Homo sapiens: one gene and its partner. The protein of the gene in region 1 interacts with the protein of each later gene in a pairwise test. Each region holds a gene or a part of one and is shown in the gene's direction. Other genes may lie near its edges.

Evidence for each region.
Region 2: the proteins of SAMHD1 (region 1) and DYSF interact in a two-hybrid assay, tested with the Homo sapiens proteins (one large-scale study listed by BioGRID and IntAct).

Annotation. Positions count from the first base shown.
Region 1 is NC_000020.11:36,944,898-36,948,716, reverse strand, and holds part of SAMHD1 (deoxynucleoside triphosphate triphosphohydrolase SAMHD1), read left to right. Parts: intron 1-1,912; coding exon 1,913-1,979; intron 1,980-3,819.
Region 2 is NC_000002.12:71,511,699-71,515,517, forward strand, and holds part of DYSF (dysferlin), read left to right. Parts: intron 1-108; coding exon 109-223; intron 224-1,541; coding exon 1,542-1,634; intron 1,635-2,017; coding exon 2,018-2,223; intron 2,224-3,819. UniProt on the Homo sapiens protein: Key calcium ion sensor involved in the Ca(2+)-triggered synaptic vesicle-plasma membrane fusion.

The DNA of each region.
Region 1 (3,819 bases):
TTTTGTATTTTTAGTAGAGATGGGGTTTCACCATGTTGGCCAGGATGGTCTTAATCTCTTGACCTGATGATTCACACGCCTTGGCCTCCCAAAGTGCTGGGATTACAGGTGTGAGCCACCACGCCCGACCAGCAATAGTCTTTCTTTCTAATAAAGTTTCTCTTGGCCGGGCACGGTGGCTCACGCCTGTAATCCCAGCACTTTGGAAGGCCGAAGCAGGTAGATCACCTGAGGTCAGGAATTCAAGCCCAGCCTGGCCAACATGGTGAAACACCGTCTCTACTAAAAATACAAAAATTAGCCGGGCATGGTGGTATGTGCCTGTAGTCCCAGCTACTTGGGAAGCTGAGGCAGGAGAATCACTTGAACCTGGGAGGCGGAGGTTGCAGTGAGCCAAGATCCCGCCACTGCACTCCAGCCTGGGCGACCGAGTGAGACTCCATCTCGGAAAAGAAAAAAAAAGTCTCTCTTTATCTAAGTCCATTTTTTTTTTAATTTGATAAGCCAAGCACAAGGTACAGTGTCCCTTTTCTCATTATGGAATACAGCCTCACAAGAAGTCTGAAATAAGTTACTACACTCAACACATTTTACCGATGATGTATGCGAGGTCCAAAGATGTAAAGTAACTTTTCAGAGATCACACCACTACAAAAAAGAGCTAGATTTTTTAAGGTTAGGTCTTTGGACTCTAGAACTCATGTGATCTATACCTTAACAAGTATTCTCATCAAAAACCACTGGAGGCCTGGCCCAGTGGCTCATACCTATAATCCCAGCACTTTGGGAGGCCAGTGTGGGAAGATCACTTGAGCCCAAGAATTCAAGACCAGCCTGGGCAACATCAGGAGACCTCAACTTTACAAAAAATAAAAATAAAAATTAGCTAGGTGCAGTGGCACATGCCTGTGGTCCCAGCTACTCAGGAGGCTGAGGCAGGAGGATCGCTTGAGCCCAGGAGGTCAAGGCTGCAGTGAGATGTGATCGCACCACTGCACTCCAACCTGGGCAACAAGCAAAACCCTGTCTCAAAGAAAATAAAAGAAAATAGTCCAGAGTTCTGGAATTTGAGGTCAGGAAAGATTAGAATTAATTGTATAGAAAGAGAAAGGAAAAAACCCAACAACACACACACACACACACACACACACACACACACACACACCCCTCTTCCAAATCAGAGTATTGAGTGCTTTCCCAGGACACACACACACACACACACACTCACACACACACACACCTCTTCCAAATCAGAGTATTGAGTGCTTTCCCAGGACACACACACACACACACACACACACACACACACACCTCTTCCAAATCACACACACCTCTTCCAAATCAGAGTATTGAGTGCTTTCCCAGGACACACACACACACACACACACACACACACACACACACACCTCTTCCAAATCAGAGTATTGAGTGCTTTCCCAGGAGGTTTGAGAAAAATCAACACTTTAAGCACTCTTGAATTCACGGTTTTAACTTGTTAATTCTAAGAACAATAGACTTAGGTTTCCTTCCCTCCCCAACTCAAACCTTGTTAATTCTAAGAACAATAGACTTAGGTTTCCTTCCCTCCCCAACTCAAAGCTGCTGACCTGGCAAAACCCCAACAGGTAGTCGGGTTTCACTTTCCTTTTTGCAACTGGTTTTTCTTGGAACTAATTTACACAAATAATTTTGAAATTTTCACGTGATTTATCAAAAAATGCTTCTTGGTTTAGTTATTTAATTAAAATTAAGTCTTTACAAGTAGCAGATCAAAAAAGTGGTACTTGGCACAATCCATTGCCTGCAGTGGGTACTCACTTATGTGGATCTGGGTAAATGTTGGTGTATCCAAATTGAAAGAAAATGAAAAGCATATGTTGTATACATTGAATTTGTCTTTTTTCTTCCATAGAAAATGAAATCACAGGCGCATTACTGCCTTGTCTTGATGAGTCTCGTTTTGAAAATCTTGGAGTAAGGTAAGAATGAAGAAATAAATTCACGTTATAACCAAACACACTTTATCCATCTTTCAGGGACAAAGCCCAAAATCTCTGATATAAACTGTCCTCATTTTAAATCTATGAAGTGCTTTAAAACAGCAGAATCCCTTGCCTGCTGGTTTTGTTTGTTCATTTGTTTTTTGAGATAGTCTCTTGTTCACCCAGGCTGGAGTATCTCGGCTCACTGCAACCTCTGCCTCCCGGCTTCAAGTTATTCTCCTGCCTCAGCCTCCTGAGTAGCTAGGATTACAGGTGCCCACCACCATGCCCCACTAATTTTTTTTCGGTTTTTTTTTTTTTTGAGACAGAGTCTCGCTCTGTCTCCCAGGCTGGAGTGCAGTGGCGTGATCTTGGCTCACTGCAAGCTCCGCCTCCCGGGTTCATGCCATTCTCCTGCCTCAGCCTCCCGAGTAGCTGGGACTACAGGCGCCTGCCACCACGCCTGGCTACTTTTTTGTATTTTTTGGTAGACACAGGGTTTCACCATGTTAGCCAGGATGGTGTCAATCTCCTGACCTCGTGATCTGCCCGCCTCAGCCTCCCAGAGTGCTGGAATTACCGCGCCCGGCTGCCCCACTGATTTTTGTACTTTTAGTAGAGATGGGGTTTCACCATGTTGGCCAGACTGGTCTTGAACTCTTGGCCTCAAGTGATCCGCTTGCCTCGGCCTCCCAAAGTGCTGAGATTACAGGTGTGAGCCACCGCGACTGGCCACCTGCTGTTTGTTTTCGCTGTACAAATCCTATGTTTGCTATTACTGTTTATTCCTATTTTAGTTTATTTTTAATTTTATTTATTTATTTATTTATTGAGACAGAGTCTCACTCTGTCACCCAGACTGGAGTGCAATGGTGCGATCCCGGCTCACTGAACCCCCTGGGTTCAAGCCATTCTCCTGCCTCAGCTTCCTGAGTAGCTGGGATTACAGGCATGCACCACCATGCCCAGCTAAGTTTTGTATTTTTAGTAGAGACAGGGTTTCACCATGTTGGCCAGGCTGGTCTCGAACTCCTGACCTAAGGTGGTCTGGAGTTCTGACCTAAGGTGGGCCAAGGTCTGCCCACCTTGGCCTCCCAAAGTGCTGAGATTACAGGCATAAGCCACCGTGTGTGGCCTTATTCCTATTTTAAATAATGTTGCAGACAAATCTTCATCAAGTTTGTAGTGACCAACTTTTTACTCTCAAGTTCAGAATAATTGAATTATACACACTGGGAAATACATAAGAACCAATAGGGAAAAAAATGTTAGTAAGAAAATCAAGGCTACACCCCTATCTTGAGCATATTTCTAGGTTTTCCTAAAGATTGGAATATGCCCTGGTATTAGATTTAAAGACACTATGCAAAACAGGCACTTTTTAGTTGTATAATTTGGGAGAAGTCATTTAACCCTTCAGTTTCTGTACCTGTAAAATGGATAACAATAATGAGATGATGTACATAAAGTGTTGAAGCATATGATTAACGCTTAGTAAATTTTATAGATAGTGATACAGAAAATTAAAAAATTAGCCGGGTACTGTGCATGCACCTGTAGTCCCACCTACACTCAGGAGGCTGAAGCAGGAAGATCCCTTGAGCCCAGGAGTTCAAGGTTGCAGTGATCTATGATAAGCTCCTGCACTCCAGCTTGGGCAGCAGAATAAGACCCTGTCTCAGATAGGTAGGTAGGTAGATAGATACATATATACATACATACATACATAGTTACATAGATCCATCTCTGTGTATGGCTGTAGGTTCTAGGGTCTAGATTAGAGTGGGGCTCCTTTAATGATCTCAGTAGAGGATCTGGTGCTTAAATACTTCTTTTT
Region 2 (3,819 bases), on another chromosome or scaffold:
TCAGAGCCATATTCCTTGGTGGAGGGATGCCAGAAACAGGGAAGATACTGGAGGGCAGTGGTCCGAGGCCAGCGCACCAACCTGTCCCCCACGTCTCATCTCTTCCAGGCCTCGCTGGTCCTGCAGGTGTCCTACACACCGCTGCCTGGAGCTGTGCCCCTGTTCCCGCCCCCTACTCCTCTGGAGCCCTCCCCGACTCTGCCTGACCTGGATGTAGTGGCAGGTGGGTAGCCCACGTTGGCCTGGCTGGGCCCCAGCAAGAAGGCCGGCAGTGGCACTTGAGCCTGGGGGCTGGGAGCTGCAGCGAGGCTTCCCAGCCTTTGCTGCCCTCCCCAGGTTGGAGGCTGCCCAGGCCTGGAAAGAAGAGGGTGCAGTGGGTGGGAAGTCCTGAGGGCTGCCTTCTGCTGTGCAGAAAGAAGGGGCAGCAGGCACGTTCCCTTGGGCGGTGCAGGGAGTAATGTGAGGGTGCCTCCAAGCCCCAGCTGCCTGGGGACGGGGCTGAGCCCAGGCTGGGTGTTCTGAGCTGTGCAGTTCCAAGAAGGGTGTGTGGGGATGGGGTCTGACCCAGGTGATACCTGAGGCCCCACAAACTCCCCAGAACCGAATGTTTCCCTACCTCAGCACCCAGCAGGCCTTTGGTGATGGTGTGTGACAAAAGAACTAGTTTTTTTTCTTGAAAGAGCCCTGAACTGAACTTCAGGGTTCCAGTCCTGCCTTTGACACTGAGTCTCTGTGTGACTTTGGGCTGATTACTTTCCCTCTCTGGGCCCATAGATTATTTGTGAAGGGAGCAGACTAAGTTAGCTAAGTGCTGTGCCTGTCTCAGCTCTCTTCACTTGGTTCTGCCAGGCTGGTCAAGCGAGGACCCAGCCCGGGGTGGCTGGCTCTCCACTGGTGGGCCTGGGTGTGGGAGCCTCCATGTGGTCCAGCCTGCTGGGGTTGGGAGGAAGCTACATAGACGGGCTAGTGGGCACTTGCCCATGGGAAAGATTCTAGAGTTTTTCTCTTAGTGAAGGGAGCTAGAAGCAAGCACAGCATTAAAACCGGAGCAGCCCATGTCTCAATTGAGTGTGCCCTGTGCCTGACCTGGGGCCAGCCCAGCACAGGGCTCTGTGGTGAGGTCGGCAGAGCAGAGCTGTCTTGTTGGGGCTCAGCACTGTCCGAGCTTAGAGATGGGAGATCAGTCTGGACTGGAGTAACCTGGTAATCCTGAGCTGTGTGGCTGGAGTGGGCTCAGGGGAGGAAGGAGAGGTGCCCGTGGTGGCAGAGGGTGGGGAGCAGGGAGGGTCCGAATACTCTGGGACTGTGTTGAGGTGGATCTGACAGAGTTAGGTGCAGGCCAATCAGTGGAGGCTTCCAGACACGCCTGGGAGGTGGTGAGAAGGAACAGGTGCCACTGGGCTCCACAGCTATTTCTGAGCTTTGCACCAGGCTGGGGTGGGCGGGGAAGGCAGGGTTGGGGATGGAGGTGCAGTAGGTTGGTTTCCTTCACCCCAACCTCCTCCCTCCCCTCCCGGGGTTATGCCCTGCCCACAAGACAGGCGGGGGACAGAGCCGGGCCGAGACTTGGTCCCTGCTCAGTGACAGCACCATGGACACGAGATACTCTGGAAAGAAGTGGCCGGCCCCCACGGGTGAGACACGGGCCAGGACTGTCCTGATCCCAGACCCTCCCTGTAACTGTCTCACTAGCTGCCATGGTCAGCTTGCTGGAGCGGGGCCAGGTGGCAGAGGACTCCTCCTGCAGGACTTGGCGGGTGGGAGGGCTAGGGCCATTCTGTTTTCTTCCTGTTGACTAACTGGACTGACTGCCCTCAAGTTTCAGCTGCTGGAAGCTCCTCTTCTTTCTACCTTATCCATCCTGGCTCACTGATGGGGAGGGAGGAGGGAGAGGAAGAGGGGATGAGTCTTAGGGCCCATGCCTTTTGGATCTTCTGCCCCCTGGGCTGGGTCCCAGGGGCAGGGGCAGGGGCAGGGCCAGAGGGATCCAGGCCTCATTAGGGCCCTCTCCTCTTAGACACAGGAGGAGAGGAAGACACAGAGGACCAGGGACTCACTGGAGATGAGGCGGAGCCATTCCTGGATCAAAGCGGAGGCCCGGGGGCTCCCACCACCCCAAGGAAACTACCTTCACGTCCTCCGCCCCACTACCCCGGGATCAAAAGAAAGCGAAGTGCGCCTACATCTAGAAAGCTGCTGTCAGACAAACCGCAGGATTTCCAGGTGATGAACGGGCTTTCTCTGACCCCAGGCTCCTCTTCAGCCATCAGCTGCGGGTGCCAGGCACCTGCCTGGTTTGTCCAGCTTCAGGGGAAGATGTGTGTGGGATCCTCAGGGCCCTCCTGTGGGGGAATCTGTAGTTTCCCTGGGCCTGGGCAGATGCCAAACAGGGAGTTCACATCTTACATCCACAGAATAAGCTTCTGCCGAGACCTGTGGTTTTGCGCTTAAAAAAAAAAAAAAAAAAAAAGTCACTGCAGAGATTCAGCATGTCTTTGCATCTCTGATCAGAGAAAAACCTGATTTTTCTAACCAGGGTATATCCAACCAGCAAGCTCCTGGCTATTCAGGTGTGGTCTGTGTCCAGCACCTTCCGCATCACCTGTATACTTGTTAGACATGCAGAGTCTACTCAGACCTGCTCTACCAGAATCTGCATTTTAACAAGATCCTTACCTCAAAGAAGCTCTGTCTAACATCTTTTTTTTCTCCTTATATCTATCCCCCTGCATATAGCCATGGATTTTTCTGAGAGTCATGTGGAATTTGAATTTGTTCAAGCTCATCACAGAATAAAAGCTATTAATATGAACACTTTGACACATTTTTATCCAAAAATCCATCCCATTTTATTTGCTTTTAACTTTGGTCCTTTGCCTATTTTTTTTTTCTTTTCAAAAGAATTTTCTATTTTGATGTAGTCACACAGTGATATTTAACTCTTTACAACTACTTTTAAGGTTAAAAGCAAGAATCTTAAATCTCTATTTATAATACTAAGTGCAACAAATTGCAAAAATATATTTCTATTCTAAATCATGGTAATTTAAGCAGAAGTCCTAGCTCTAACCACTGTTTGCCCCAAAAGACAAAATTCTAGCCCCCATACTACTATTCCCCAAACATGTTCATATTGCCTTTGTTCTCTTTATGGAAATACCATATGTTTATTTTAGACACTTTGGAAAATATATTAAAATGAGGAGATTAAAAATCACTCATCCATCTTCCCATTGCTATTAAGAATATATCCTCCCATATTATGCAATTTACAAAAAAAAAAACAGTTGGTCAGTAAATAACAGTTGATTCTAAAGTGGAGCCAGTAAATATCTTATTTTTTTCCATAGAATTGCCTTAATATTGTAAAATTTCATATTTTAAAATATCTTACCTAATATTTGGAAGCATAGACGTTCTTGAAGTCTTCATTTACTTACAGCTCAATGGCAAAAATTCTTAATTTATTTCTCAGAATGTAAGAAAGCATTGCATCTTATAAAGAATAAAGACTATTTCTGGGGTCACTTCACTGTGTAAGTTCGACCTCTGAGGGAATTGTCAATAAAGAATATTCAAGCCACTTAAAAATGCCAGTATCAATGGGGTCTCGGGTGGGGCTTGTGCCAATGGCTGAATGACATAAATGGGGGCTGTATCTGCCCACCCCTGGGGTTTAATGTGGGTAGCCGACGAGGGGCAGCCTGGCAGCTCTTCTATGGAGCTGTGGAATTTTATAGATGTAAGGGGCCTTGGTGGGAAAATATGATAGTTCGTATAATGCTCTTCCTAATTCCTTTTTAATACTTTCCCCAAGAA